4 linked regions of the Homo sapiens genome follow. The protein of the gene in region 1 purifies or fractionates together with the protein of each later gene. This does not show direct contact. Each region holds a gene or a part of one and is shown in the gene's direction. Other genes may lie near its edges.

What was found. The genes of interacting proteins can lie anywhere in the genome.
Region 2: the proteins of RBMS2 (region 1) and THUMPD3 purify together in Homo sapiens (co-immunoprecipitation; one large-scale study listed by IntAct). This does not show direct contact.
Region 3: the proteins of RBMS2 (region 1) and MRPL1 purify together in Homo sapiens (affinity purification with mass spectrometry; one large-scale study listed by BioGRID and IntAct). This does not show direct contact.
Region 4: the proteins of RBMS2 (region 1) and MCAT purify together in Homo sapiens (affinity purification with mass spectrometry; one large-scale study listed by BioGRID and IntAct). This does not show direct contact.

What each region holds. Positions count from the first base shown.
Region 1 is NC_000012.12:56,520,541-56,524,619, forward strand, and holds the start of RBMS2 (RNA-binding motif, single-stranded-interacting protein 2), read left to right. Parts: upstream 1-1,279; 5' UTR 1,280-1,483; coding exon 1,484-1,549; intron 1,550-4,079.
Region 2 is NC_000003.12:9,383,554-9,387,053, forward strand, and holds the end of THUMPD3 (tRNA (guanine(6)-N(2))-methyltransferase THUMP3), read left to right. Parts: intron 1-658; coding exon 659-782; intron 783-970; coding exon 971-1,135; coding exon of another isoform or gene 1,136-1,179; 3' UTR 1,180-3,238; downstream 3,239-3,500. UniProt on the Homo sapiens protein: Catalytic subunit of the THUMPD3-TRM112 methyltransferase complex, that specifically mediates the S-adenosyl-L-methionine-dependent N(2)-methylation of guanosine nucleotide at position 6 (m2G6) in tRNAs.
Region 3 is NC_000004.12:77,897,330-77,900,829, forward strand, and holds part of MRPL1 (large ribosomal subunit protein uL1m precursor), read left to right. Parts: intron 1-3,500.
Region 4 is NC_000022.11:43,140,599-43,144,538, reverse strand, and holds the start of MCAT (malonyl-CoA-acyl carrier protein transacylase, mitochondrial isoform a precursor), read left to right. Parts: upstream 1-1,140; 5' UTR 1,141-1,190; coding exon 1,191-1,613; exon of another isoform or gene 1,614-1,647; intron 1,648-3,289; coding exon 3,290-3,377; intron 3,378-3,940. UniProt on the Homo sapiens protein: Catalyzes the transfer of a malonyl moiety from malonyl-CoA to the free thiol group of the phosphopantetheine arm of the mitochondrial ACP protein (NDUFAB1). This suggests the existence of the biosynthesis of fatty acids in mitochondria.

The sequences.
Region 1 (4,079 bases):
ATTGGTAGGGGTTACTGGATATCATTCTTAAGTTTTTGGTTTCCTTTCTTGTTAAGGTTACGCCTACAAAGACATTCTTTGGAAACTAGTAGAGGTAAGTGTTGCAACTCTATTAGGTTCTTGACTCTGAAATTTGTATTCCTTCCTAAGAATTTTGTGTTTTTATTCTGTTGAAGCATATGCTTCTTAAGTATTTTTTTTTTTTAAACAGCTCAAAGACAACTCAAAGCAGACATCCCAACTGTAGACTTCAATTTAGACATAAACTCCAGGTTTGGTGAGTTACTGTAATTGTTTCAGTTTCATGGATCTTAAAGATGAGGAAATAGCAGGGTAAAGTGTTAAATAAGATAGCCTGCAATTGTTAGAGAAATAACAAGGCACCAAGTTTCATGATATAGTCCAGTCTGATAATTCCTTCTTAAGTATGAACTCATTCCTCGGAGAATCTGAAATAGGAGTGAGGGGCATCAGCCCATTGGTATGACCCAAGAGAAACACATCTAAGGATCTGAAACTAGTTATACCCCATACTCTGTTTTGCTTAGCTCTGCTCTTTGGTGTGTTCCTCTGTTTGTTCCTTTGTACATTAAGATCACTATAAATGGGCCAGGGGTGGTGGCTCATGCCTGTAATCCCAGCACTTTGGGAGGTTGAGTGGGTGGATCACTTGAGGTCAGGAGTTCGAGACCAGCCTGGCCAAGATGGCGAAACCCCGTCCCTACTAAAAAATACAAAAATCAGCTGGGTGTGGTGGTGGTCACCTGTAATCCCAGCTACTCGAGAGGCTGAGGCAGGAGAATTGCGGAAGGTGGAGGTTGCAGTGAGCCGGATCCGGGATTGCACCACTGCACTTCAGCCTGGGTGACAGACTAAAACTCTGTCTCAAAAAAAAAAAAAAAAAATCACTGTAAGTGTAAAGTAGGGGAAGCCCTGAGCTTATCTCACACACTCTAACTCTGTTTTTTTTTTTTTTTTTTTTTGCGTGTTCTCCAAGGCAATGTCTCAGGAGCCCCTTTAAAATCAAGCTTGAAATCTTATAGCTGAGATCTAAGGGTGGAAATAAAGCCCTCATTGTCTTTATATGAGAATCGGAACTTGTTCATAGAGGAAAGGGGATAAATTTGAAAGGGGTTAGACCTAAGAACTCTTCTTTCTAGCTTTAACTCCTGAGACTATGAAAAACAAACAAAAAAAAACATCTTGGGCATTAGGACCCAGTGGAAGTGCCTCTGCCTCATTCAGACTCTGTTAACTTCTCTCAGTGACGTAAAGGAGCAGCCCGAGCTCATTCTCTGCCCGCAGCCCCCCTTCATCTCTCTCCTCCTGCTCCTTTTCTCCTCCTTTCTCCTCCCCCTCCCTTTTTTCCTCCCTCCCTCTCCCCCTTTCCCTCGCTCCCCTCCTCCCTCCCTCCCCGTCTTTCTTACCCCCTCCCTTTCTCTCTCTCTCTCTCTCTCGCTCGTTCCCTAACATTAAAGAGAAAATGCTGCTATCCGTGACTTCCAGGCCCGGGATTTCGACTTTTGGCTACAATAGAAACAACAAGAAGGTAGGGAAAAGCGCTTTTTTGGTATCTAGCTACTTCTTTTTCTGGGGATCTTGCAATGCCCTTGGTTTTTACATTCTTTTTAAAGAGGGGAAGGGGCTTCCTCTCTCAAGATTCCTAATTCCTCACCGCGCTTCTCCCTTTTCCACTACTGCTTTCTGCATCTTTCCTCAACTGGTTCTGGAGTTCAGGGAACTTTCAGTCTCTGCGAGGCCTGAAAAGACAGGGGAATTAAAAACAAATCAAGCTTGCAAGTTTGTATCCTTATGAAATGAAGTTAGTTTGACTTCCTGCTGATGTATCAATCTCCACAAGGATAATATGTCATTTCAGACCCTGTCCCCCAGTCCACCCCACCCCACAAGATTATTTTATTTTTTGATTAACTGTTTCCATTCTCTCCCCAACCTTCCCTCCTACCCATACCACCAGTAGTATTAGATAGCTGAAATCATAGATAGTCAGAGAAACCACAACAGTTTATCAAGAGCTGGGTATACTCTTCTAGACTACAGATCCTACCCCACCCAGCCTATAGAGAAGGAGTCTTGAGAGACATCGCACCTTGGGATTAAGGCACAGAGCGCTGTGATACTTTGGATCTTGTATTTGAACTGATACTTGGACCTCTGCAGATAGCCAGACTTTGCAGTGATCCTAGGAGTCTTTATGATTAACCCATGGCTGCCAGAGAATTGTGCTGTCCTTGGGCACATGGGGAGAGATGGACAATCTTGTCCATATTTGACAAGGAATATATTTGGCAGTTTCTGGCATTTCAGGGCGCACAGCATACTGATTAGGAGGAATTTCATGCTGTAGCAGGAAGAAGACTCTTTACCCTCTCTTTGTGTTGTAGCTGTTCTTTGAAGAAAAAATGTGACATAGACATTTAGGGAATCTTTTGCTCATCTAATGGAATGTTGGAGGGTGAGGAACGATTCCTGCTGCTTTCTCATGTACCTAATGAGACCATTAGAGGTGGATTTAAACACAAGTGTCTGATCAATGCAGTGGGTAAATGTTTAGACCCAAAACACTTAATGTTGATTTATGGGCTTAGTCTGTGTGGTACTCATTTTGTTTATATCCTGAAGAAATATGGGTAGAGGGGAGAGGAAATGGGGAGCTATAGGTCAGAGGATACAAAGTAGTAGATATGTAGGATGAACAAATCCTGAGATCCAATGTACAACATGAGGACTATAGATGATAAAGTTGTACTGTATATGGGATTCATGCTAAATGAGCAGACTTTAGCTCCTCTTGCCACAAAAAGAAACAAAAGGGACAATTATGTGGGATGATTAATTTACTTCACTATAGTAACCTTTCTACTATCTATATGTATCCCGTAACATGTTGTATACCTTAAATATACACAATAAAATTTACTTTAAAAAAGAAATGAGGCTGGGCATGGTGGCTTATGCCTGTAATCCCAGCACTTGGGAGGCCAAGGTGGGTGGATCACTTGAGGTCAGGAGTTCGAGACCAGCCTGGTCAACATGGTGAAACCCCAAATTAGCTGGGCTTGGTGGCACGCGCCTGTAATCCCAGCTACTCAGGAGGCTGAAGCAGGAGAATCACTTGAACCTGGGGGACAGAGGTTGCAATGAGCCAGGATTGTGCCACTGCACTCCAGCCTGGGTGACAGAGCAAGACTCCATCTCAAAAAGAAATGAAATATGAGTTTATACACATTTGTTGGTTATCAATATATGTTTATATGTACATATACTGACATCCCTTTATCAAATATATGTATAGATAATACATTATATATTATACGTATATATTTGAAAGGGAAATATTTCACATGTCTTTATTCTTTTCAAACCTTGTAGAGTACCATGTGAAAATTTCTTTCCTGATTTTTTTCCCTCCTAGTTCTCTCAGGTTACCCAGAACTCATTAAAATAAAATGAATTCCCAAAATGAATTGCTTCCCTATTAGAGGTTTCACGTATTTGAAGCTATCTAAAAATCTCTTTTTGCTCTCTGCTCCCTCTCCCACCTTGGAGTATAGGAAAAAGTTAATTAGCTTCTAAATCTAGGATAGTATAGGGGACAAGAGGTATGGTTGTGGGTTTGGGTTGAAATCTCTTAGTAAGGTTTGACAATTCAGGAATTGTTGGAATTGGTTGGGGAGGATAGGTAGATACATAATTACTAATTACTAATGTATTTGTCAATTCTTTGGGTTCTTATAAGTCAATGTTATGATCAGATGTAAGGATGCTGTATCTGTGCATCACTCTGTGGCCATGCATATGACTCCTTTTGTGCCTATATAAGTTTGTGAACGTGGAGGGTTTTCATATTTTTATTTTTACTTTTTTTTTTTTTGAGATGGAGTCTCGCTCTGTCACCCAGGCTGGAGTGCAGTGGTGTGATCTCAGCTCACTGCAGCCTCCGCCTCCCAGGTTCAAGCAATTCTGCCTCAGCCTCACAAGTAGCTGGAACTACAGGAGTGCCACCACACCCGGACAATTTTTTTGTGTTCTTAGTAGAGACGGGGTTTCACCATGTT
Region 2 (3,500 bases), on another chromosome or scaffold:
CTTGAATTATATATCCTACACAAAAAGGTGGTAGAAGACTTGGTTCTCATTCTGTTTCTCAGCATAAATGATTCTTTTTTTTTTTTTGGAGACAGAGCCCTGCTCTGTTGCCCAGGCTGGAGTGCAGTGGTATGATCTCGGCTCACTGTAACCTCTGCCTCCCGGGTTCAAGCGATTCTCCTGCCTCACCCTCCTGAGTAGCTCGGATTTCAGGCACATGCCATCATGCCCAGCTTATTTTTGTATTTTTAAAAGACAGGGTTTCACCATATTGGCCAGGCTGGTCTCAAACTCCTGACTTCAGGTGATCTGCCCGCCTCAGCCTCCCAAACTGCTGGGATTACAGGCATGAGCCACCAAAACACCTGGCCTAAATGATTTCTAATCACTTGTTTGGTTTATACAGTTTGACTGCTTATTATACTAAGAGGACAAGTCATATAACTAACACAGTTGTCTAAAAAAAATTTTTTTGATTCAGAATTCTAAGCAGTTTACTAACTCAACTTATTTCATAGACATGTAATGGCAAAGGTCTGGTTTCTAAAACTACAGCTATTTTTCATGCCTCAGGATGCATGAAACTGTTTTTGTTTCATATAGTCCTTCTATTTTGTATCTTTTGCAAGTGTTTGACTCATGAGACCTTCTATTATAGGATGGGATCCAAGAAGAGAAACTGGAACCTTTATCCAGCTTGCCTACGGGAGATGAGCCGTGTCTGCACACCTACCACAGGCCGAGCTGTACTACTTACTCAAGACACAAAATGCTTTACCAAGGTGCTATACACATTAGCTCAAAATCGCAGCCTGTGGCAACTTTGGGATCTTTTTGAGATTTGGGGATGTTTGTTTGGATAAGATTTGTTTTCTCTTCCCCTGAGGTTTCCTATCTTGGCAGTTAAGAATCCTAGTTGATGTAAAAGTAGATTGTCAACCTAATTGTTATTTTTTTTGTGTGTACACAGGCGTTATCTGGAATGCGACACGTATGGCGAAAGGTGGATACAGTCTGGGTGAACGTTGGTGGTCTTCGTGCTGCAGTTTACGTTCTGATACGTACACCTCAAGCTTTTGTTCATCCTTCAGAACAAGACGGAGAAAGAGGAACTCTTTGGCAATGCAAAGAATGAAGATGACTAATAGTACTTGTACTTCCCACCACTGGAAATGTTAGCATAAAAGAACTTGGAGAGGAAAAAAGTATTAACAAAACTGCAGTCTGCACTCTTTAAACCTGTTTAAGGCTCTTCATCCTGGTTAGCAAAAGGTGTGAATGTAATGTGATGGAATTTAAAAGTTTTATGAGACCAGGCACAGTGGCTCACGACTGTAATTCCAGCAGTTTAGGAAGCCGAAGTGTGCAGATCACCTGAGGTCCGGAGACCAGCCTGGCCAACATGGTGAAACCCTGTCTCTACTAGAAATACAAAAATTAGCCAGGTGTGGTGGCGGGCGCCTGTAATCCCAACTACTCAGGAGGCTGAGGCTAGAGAATCACTTGAACCCAGCAGGCGGAGGTTGCGGTGAGTCGAGATCACGCCATTGCACTCCAGCCTGTGCGACAAGAGCGAAACTCTGTCTCAAAAAGATTTTATAAGAAAGCAGAGCTTTTCCTTGAAGCTCTTTTGAAGTGGTAGCTTAATTAGTATTTTGTTGAAAATACTTTAAAGATGCCTAGTGAAAAGCCTACTAAAGTGCTGTGAGATTGGGGTTTAGAACATTTTATTTTCAGGCTTTATGGCCTATTTTCCATTGTGTCAAGTGCAAAACTACCCTGGCCCAAAGGAAGGGCAGAGAACATAATTACATCTTAGGCCACATTTCATTCTTTGCAGCTTTGCTAATCCAGTTGCTCAAGTTCTTTACCTCAACCTGAAGGAATGAAGCATTATTACATTTTGTGAATGGTGTTCAGCCTATAAGACGAAGTCTCACAAGACCTATAGGAAAGTTTACCATCTGCCTTAAATATTAAAATATCCATCTGTTATTCACATTAATACACAGAATGAAAATAGAGGTCTAGGAATTATCAAAGGTACTGCAAAAATACTGTATAGAACTTATTTGTAAATAGCACATACATTGATAGATGGGGTGTGGGACCAACAAACCAAATTAAAAGAAATTGTTTTTCTTTCAGTACACTAAGGTGTGTGTTTTCAAAACCAAACACAAACCTGTCAAGAGTATTTGTTGGCTAGTTTCTTAAAAGGCCAAGAGAAAAAAAATGATATATCTTTGGAAAACTTTTAATTTGGGAGTTATGTGAGTTGTTACTTTCTCCTGGATCACGATTCACATTTAATTGCTTTTCCAGTTGCAACAAGTCCTTCTTGAGAGTTTTGTGGAAAATGGTGCTTCCCTGGAACAAAGAGTAGTTGAGGTTTTTTTGTGGAACTCATCATAGTATTGTTTATTTTGGAGCCTCTGGCTGCAATCAGTATAGATTTTCAGTATCCTATTAGTATTATAATAGTACTCCTCTTAATACTTTCTGATGTCTCCATTGAGAATAAAAGGACACAATACTTTTGAAAGAAGAGTTCACATTAGCAGCACAGCCAGCAATCCTCATCTGGTTTCTCTGATCTCCTACCCCACACTTCATAATGAATGGGAAATAAGATGTTTATGAAGGTTTTATATCCTAGACTGGCCTTTTTACCACTATCAGAATTCACAGCTGCTTTGTTTATGGGCCGAACACAAAACTTTTCACCTGATGGGAGAAACCATTTAAACCTCAAATTAAGCAACCCACAGAACCAGGAAGTTCAAGGACCATGTCTGTTTTCACCACGATGTCTTTCCCCACCCCCCCACCCCCCACTCCACCCCCCACTAAGGGCAGGGTATTGTATCTGCCAGACTGGGTATTTGTTGAACAAGCGAGTATTTTCGCCTATTAGCTTAGTTTTTAAGGAAATCATTTTTTACTTGATTCATCATAGCTTTAATTCTATTACATACTACAATAAAAATTTGACAAGACTGATACAAATATGTAGTGGGCAATAGTTTGCCGTCTTCTTCCCTAGTATGGTGTTTTTCAATCTGGTGACTAGAATAGGCAGTGGGCTATAAGCAGGATTCATAAGGCCTGGAGCTGAGTTATATGTGACACTGCCACCTATTCATTGTGTGACCTTGGTTTTAACCTTCAAAGTGGGTCTCCTGGACTAAAAGAATGTGAAAAGATGGGGAAATAAATCTGTAATCTGAACATGGAATGACTTAGTTACAGACCAGACATATTGTTACTGGGAATGAAAAAGTCAATATATTTGAGGGGAAAAAAATGTAAATAAATATTGAGAAAGATTTTACAAATCTAATTAGGGGAAGATAGTTATCTCCCAATACTAGAGGGTACCAGAGTGCTTTTAAGGGGAACATTTGGTTACCCTTATTTCTTTAAAAAATGGCAGTTTAGGAAATTCTGCCCTAACTGTAGTCCCAATGTCAGATAGGACTCAGGTCTCCACTGCAAGG
Region 3 (3,500 bases), on another chromosome or scaffold:
CAAAGTGCTGGGATTACAGGCGTGAACCACTGTGCCCAGCCAAAAAAAAATCTTGACTTAATGGTATCAGATGTTTATTATGCATATTAACCTGTGATAGGTACTGTGGCATATATGGGAACAGTTGAATTCTTTTATACCATACTAAGTTATTGTCAGGTAAGAAAGGGACATGATTAGAAAATTAGAATTACACTAATGTGTATTCCTCTTAACTTCTAACTCTTAGAATTGAACACTAGTGCTCCACTCGATGTCTTGTCCAAACGATATCCCAGCAGACTTGTCCAAAAGATATCCACATATGAGCAGGACACTGCTTTCCGTGAGGAATTTGGTGTTGTATCATACGTGAGACTCATGGATATTAAAGTTCTTGTAATGTGTAGCATTTTTAACTCATAGAATAGTACCTTGTACTTCAGGGTTTTGTTTGCATTATTGGAACAATCAGAAGTTTTGGTTATATAAGGGAAAATAACCAAAACGGAGAATTTTTGCAAGGTAATGAATTTGAAATTTTTCTAAATTTCTGCCCCTTCACATATTAGTTTAAAAACTATCCATGTATGAAAGACTCCATTAATGATTAGGTACTGTTACAATTGTTGTAGATGAAATATGGATCTATTATAGCTGGTTCTGTTATGCTTTCCTTTGCTTCCTTTACTTCAGCCTTGGCAGCCTCCTTGATCTTCCTCATACACACTAAGCACTCTCCCTCCTCAGGTCTTTGGATTTACTGTTGCATAGGTCTGTAGTAGTACTGTTTGCTTACTTGCCTTGCTCACTTTCTCATTCGAACATCATCTAAACAGAGAGACCTTCCATGACCATCCTATATAAAATATTACTACCACTTCCTATTATCACTAAATATCATTATTATGCTTTTGTATTCATTTTAGGACATATCACTCTTAGCATCTTTTTTTTGTGTGTGTGTGTGTGATGTGTGTTCAGTGCCTCTCATTAGAGCAAAGATGGTTTTGTTTTGTCCATTGCTACATTCCCATTGCCTAGAGTATAGTACCTGGAAAATAGTACGTACTCTACAAATATTTGAATGAATGAATGAATGAATGAATGAATGAATGTTTAATCCAGCACTCATTCAGTTGGTAGAAGATATAAAATTAAACTGTAACTTAAAAATGGAGTATACAATTTTTTTTTTTTTGAGACGGAGTTTTGCTCTGTTGCCCAGGCTGGAGCGCAGTGGCACATCTCGGCTCACTGCAACCTCCCCTTCCCGGGTTCATACAATTCTCCTGCCTCAGCCTCCTGAGTAGCTGAGATTACAGGTGTGCGCCACCATGCCCAGGTAATTTTTTTTGTATTTTTAGTAGAGATGGGGTTTCACCATGTTGGCCAGGCTGGTCTCAAACTCCTGACCTCAAATGATCCACATCCCTCAGCTTCCCAAAGTGCTGGGATTACATGCGTGAGCCACCGCACCCAGCTTGGACTATATACAATTTATAGTTTTTTTTTTATCAGAATAATTGTATTTATAGTAGTTGAGTATCTACTATGTGCCAAGCCTTGGGTGTGATAGCAGTGAACAAGACAGACAAAGTTCTTGCGGTCATAGAACTAACAGTTTTGTTTTCTGCAGTAGAGAAACTAGTTTAACTTTTTACAGTTACTTATGCACAGATTTTTTTTTTTTTTTTTTTTTTGAGACAGAGTCTCGTTCTGTCACCCAGGCTGGAGTGCAGAGACATGATCTTGTCTCACTGCAACCTCTGCCTCCTGGGTTCAGGTGATTCTCTTGCCTCAGCCACCAGAATAGCTGGGACTACAGGCATGTGCTGCCACGCCTGGCTCATTTTTTTTTTTTTTTTTTGTATTTTCAGTAGAGACGGGGTTTTGCCATGTTGGCCAGGCTGGTCTTGAACTCATGAGCTCAAGTGATCTACCTGCTGCAGTCTCCCAAAGTGCTGGGATTACAGGCATGTGCAACCATGCCTGGCCATTTATGCTCAGATTTCTTTAAACAAACAAAAAGCAAATCACGAGCCCCCCCGCACCTTCATTTGATTCAACTATCCTTTCCAGCTGCGATCTTAGTTTTTTATGTGTTTTATGTTAAGTTTTTCAAATAATGGTCTTCAGCAATTGGCTTCATTTTCTTACTAAGCATTAGTATTCCTTACAGCTTTTTCTTCCATAATTTAGCTAAAATATTGCTCTCTCAGTTATCACAGGTTTTTCTTTTGCCATATTCAAAGGTCTGTTCTTAGTTTTCTCTGTTTCTTGCAACTTCTTTCAGGAGGTAATGTATGCAGTCCTAACTCACCTCTTTTCTAACTATTTCTTCTTTGTTTTCCTTGATTAAAAAAAGAAAAGAGAAGGTATTTTAGGAGGAAATACTTGATCGTATAGTATAGGTTATGTTCATTATGGAAATTGAATAGAGAATTAAAGGAAAAGAAAGTGAAAGGAAGAAAGAAAATGAAGAAAGAAGAGCCTAAAAACACAGAGAAAAGTGAAAGTGGAGAAAGAGGAAAGCAGTTAAATAGCAGTAAGGGATAGCAAAGCCCTAGAAATAGCAGTGATGATTTAACATTTGCCTGTATTGAAAAGCAGAGTAGAATAGTGGTTAGTATAGATCTCTCTTTGTCTTGTCTTTGTCAGTTACTGTGACCTTGAGCAAACTTTTTAACATTTTGTGCCTTATTTATTCATCTACAAAATGAGTTTCATTATAACATCCATCCCATACTGTTTTTGTGATAATGTATGAAGCACAAGCTGGGTACATAACATATGATGTGTGGGCCACTATGATTATCATTAGCTCCCTATCATTCCTAAAGTAGCTATTCATTCTCCACAATTACTTTAGGAGAAGCTATTCTTTTTCATGTATTTATATATCACCTTCATAACTTATTTGTTGAAAAAGCAGATAATTATTGGCATGCCTACCTATGTGCCAGCTGACTACACTTAGTACTGAGGATTGAAAAATAAACTGAAAAGACATTTTCTGTCTTTAAGAAGATAAACACTGAGGAGAGAGAGATGAGAGCAAACTGCTGCACTAAAATGCAATAAGTTTATTGGTAGAAAATGTACAAAGTATTGTAGAGGAATGAGGGACTGCTTTGTAGAATGAGATTATATAAAGAAGACTGCAGTTGAGAGGTTAAGCATGAATAGGCATTTGCTTTCCTTACATGAATCAGGCAGAGGAAATGGCCATTTTACATATACAAAAGTATGAGAGAGCCAGTAGTGTTCAAGAAATTATAAGCAGCTTTCTATCATTTGGTATATAAAATGTTATCAGATACTGGTGGTCAATGGGATTGGACAGTGATAGACAGTGGGCTAGGTCACAGCAGGCTTTGTGTGCTATACCATGGAGATTAGATTTTATCCTCTTTGCAAATAGGAGCCATTGAAAACTTTAGCTCAGAAGAATGATGTAAGATTTGCTTATCAGAATGAGTATTGTGAGAACTGTATAAGTGGTAGGGTAGCCATATGAG
Region 4 (3,940 bases), on another chromosome or scaffold:
GCCTCCCGAGTAGCTGGAACTATAAGCGCCCACCACCACGCCCAGCTAATTTTTGTATTTTTAGTAGAGACGGGGTTTCTCCATGTTGGCCAGGCTGGTCTTGAACTCCTGACCTCAAGTGATCCATCTGCCTCAGCCTCCCAAAGTACTGGGATTACAGGCATGAGCCACTGCGCCTGGCCGAGCCTGTGTCTCTTGAGTTGCTTTTAGGTTAACATTAGATAACCCCAATTTCCAACCTCCATTCTGTCACTAACCACCTGTCACTCAATCTCTGAGCAGCTATCCATCACAGCGTTGCTGTGAGGAATTAAATAAGCTAATATCTGAAACACATTCAAGGCTTTGTTCAATAGCATAAAGATCTATTGGATGCTTATTATGTGCCAAGCACTGTGTGGTTTGTAAGAAAACATTATAAAAGAGAGCTGTTGTATAGTTGGGAACTGGCAACGGATGGTCGGCCATGCCAACTCCTGTGGTTGGGAGGATCATATGCAAGAAATGTGGTTGCTGGCCGGGCGCGGTGGCTCACGCCTGTAATCCCAGCACTTTGGGAGGCCGAGGCGGGTGGATCACCTGAGGTCAGGAGTTCGACACCAGCGTGGCCAACATGGTGAACCCGTCCCTACTAAAAATACAAAAATTAGTCAGGCATGGTGGCGGGCGCCTGTTAATCCCAGCTACTCGGGAAGCTGAAGCAGGAGAATCGCTTGAACCTGGGAGGCGGCGGTTGCAGTGAGCAAAGAACACGCCACTGCACTCCAGCCTGGGCGACAGAGCAAGACTCCGTCTCAAAAAACAACAACAAACAACAACAACGACAACAACAAAAACCATCAATGTGGAAGAGTTTCAAGTGCTCTTCATGTGCCAGGTAGAAAGCGTAAATACTACATTGCGTTGCGTTATTTATTCCATAAATATCTGTTGAGGACCCACTGTGGTGTGGCATCGTGTTCCGTTCAACGGCTATGGCTGTTTAAGTAAACGCATGAGTCCCTCCAGGACCCCAGAACGCAGCCCGAAGGGCCTCAGAGCCGGGGCGGAACCAGCGTCTGCGGAACCTTTCTTCCCGCTCCCGGTGCCCCGGAAGCCCCGGCAGGAAATGCGTCAGGGACCACGCTGCGCCGCGCCGCCGCAGTCGGGCCTCGGTCGCCACGGTAACGCGCGCGGGCAGGTGTCCGACCATGAGCGTCCGGGTCGCACGGGTAGCGTGGGTCAGGGGCTTGGGCGCCAGCTACCGCCGCGGCGCCTCGAGCTTCCCGGTGCCTCCGCCGGGCGCCCAGGGTGTAGCGGAGCTGCTGCGAGATGCGACCGGGGCGGAGGAGGAGGCGCCCTGGGCGGCGACGGAGCGGCGAATGCCGGGCCAGTGCTCCGTGCTGCTCTTCCCGGGCCAGGGCAGCCAGGTGGTGGGCATGGGCCGCGGTCTGCTCAACTACCCGCGCGTCCGCGAACTCTACGCCGCCGCCCGCCGCGTGCTGGGCTACGACCTGCTGGAACTGAGCCTGCACGGGCCGCAGGAGACCCTGGACCGCACCGTGCACTGTCAGCCCGCGATCTTCGTGGCATCGCTGGCCGCTGTCGAGAAACTACATCACCTGCAGCCCTCGGTGAGGCCCGAGGCCCCGTGACAGGAGGGGGAAGGTGAGCTCTGCCTGAGCTCTTGGCCCTGCCAGAGGCTTCCGCCTGCCATTCCGGGGGCTCCCACGTCTTACTCATTCGATCGAGTTTTTTTTTTTGTTTGTTTTTGTTTTTTTTTTTGAGACGGAGTCTCGCTCTGTCGCCCAGGCTAGAGTGCAGTGGCGCGATCTCGGCTCCGCCTCCCGAGTTCACGCCATTCTCCTGCCTCAGCCTCCCAAGTAGCTGGGACTACAGGCGCCCGCCACCATGCCCGGCTAATTTTTTGTATTTTTAGTAGAGACGGGGTTTCATCGTGTTAGTCAGGATGGTCTTGATCTCCTGACCTCGTGATCTGCCCGCCTCGGCCTCCCAAAGTGCTGGGATTACAGGCATGAGCCACCGTGCCCGGCCCGTTTTGTTTTGTTTTTTGAGACAGAGTCTTGCTCTGTCACCCAGGCTGGAGTGCAATGGCGCAGTCTTGGCTCACTGCAACCTCTGCCTCCCAGGTTCAAGCAGTTCTCCTGCCTCAGCCTCCGCAGTAGCTGGGATCACAGGTGCACACCACCACGCCCGGCTAATTTTTTTATTCTTTACTTAAATCCTCCCAGGTTCACCCACCTCGGCCTCCCAAAGTGCTAGGATTACAGGTATGAGCCACTGCACTGGCCTAAATGAAGGAACATTGAGATGAGTTGAGAATGTCACTTCACTTGAAGGTGGTGGATTGATTGCTATTAATATTTAATAAGACGGTAAATGTTAAGCTAGCACTTGAGATCCTTTACCCTATTTCACCTTCACACCACCTTGTGAGGTTAATACTGTTATTTGATGGTTGAGGAATGCAGACTCAGGGATATTAAAAGAATTAGTTAAGTGGTCCTGTTGAATCGTCATCATAATATTCATTCACTGCTTACCCTAGTCTGGGTCTGTGCTAAGCACTGTATAGACATTATATTCACATAATTCTCTCATCCGCCCTTTGGGGTAGGCCCTGTTCTTCCCTCATTTCACAGATGAGATAAAAATGCTCTTGGCCGGGCGAGGTGGCTCACGCCTATAATGCCTATAATCCAGCACTTCAGGAGGCTGAGGTGGGTGCATCACGAGGTCAGGAGTTCAAAACCAGCCTGGCCAACATGGTGAAACCCCGTCTCTACTAAAAATACAAAAATTAGCCAAGTGTGGTGGTGGACACCTGTAATCCCAGCAACTCGGGAGGCTGAGGCAGGAGAATTGCTTGAACCCGGGAGGCGGACGTTGCAGTGAGCCGAGATCACGCCATTGCACTCCAGCCTGGGCAACAAGAGCAAAACTCCGCCTCAAAAAAAAAAAAGTCATGCTCTTAACTTGTGCACAACGATATGGCCTGAGAGCCTGCTGCAGGGCCATGGCAAGGGAATCCAGAGCCCTGGGTTGGCGTCAGTGTGACCATGGACGGAGTTGATGGACTGTAACTAACCAGGAAAGCTCCTCCTAAATAAAGGGGCAGGACTCAATGATTGTCAAGGTCACTTTTGTGTGTCCTCTTCCAGCTGGTGCACCAAGTTCGTAGAACCTGGCTCACTGAGATGCTGAACACCCCGCCAGCTCTCAGGTACAGAGCCCTGGAACTGGGATCCCCAGGAGAGTGAGGGCTCACGTTCTGCATCTGTCCCCACAGGTGATTGAGAACTGTGTTGCTGCTGCTGGATTCAGTGTGGGAGAGTTTGCAGCCCTAGTGTTTGCCGGAGCCATGGAATTTGCTGAAGGTACAGGAAGGAGTTTGGTTTTATGCAAGGCTGTGGTCTTGGGCTCATTAGGGGTAAGGGACACTGCCAAAAATGATACTGGACCCACTCAGGTGATGGGAAGGGAGCACATGGACAGGGGTGACATTGGCACATGAGGACAGGGCTTTGCTGTGATTCCTTTTCAAGACTGAAGGATTCATTAGGGATTTCCCTTATTTTTGTAATCTCATGAAATCTGCTTGCTGAACTGTCTAACCCGCTATCCTGTGCACTCATACCTGCAGCACCTGCAACACGAGAGTATGTGTTCAGTAGATATTCGTTGAATTAAAGAGTAAATAAATATTGGATCTGGAGCCATATCAGTTTTACTTCTTAAGATTTTTGCTGGCCAGGAACCATGGCTTACGTCTGTAATCCCAGTGCTTTGGGAGGCCAAGGCAGGAGGACCACTTGAGGCCAGGAGTTCCAGACCATCTTGGGCCACATAGTGAGACCTTCATCTCTGCCCCCAACAAAAAACAAAAATTACGTTGGGTGCAGTGATTCACACCTGTAATGCCAGCACTTTGGGAGGCAGA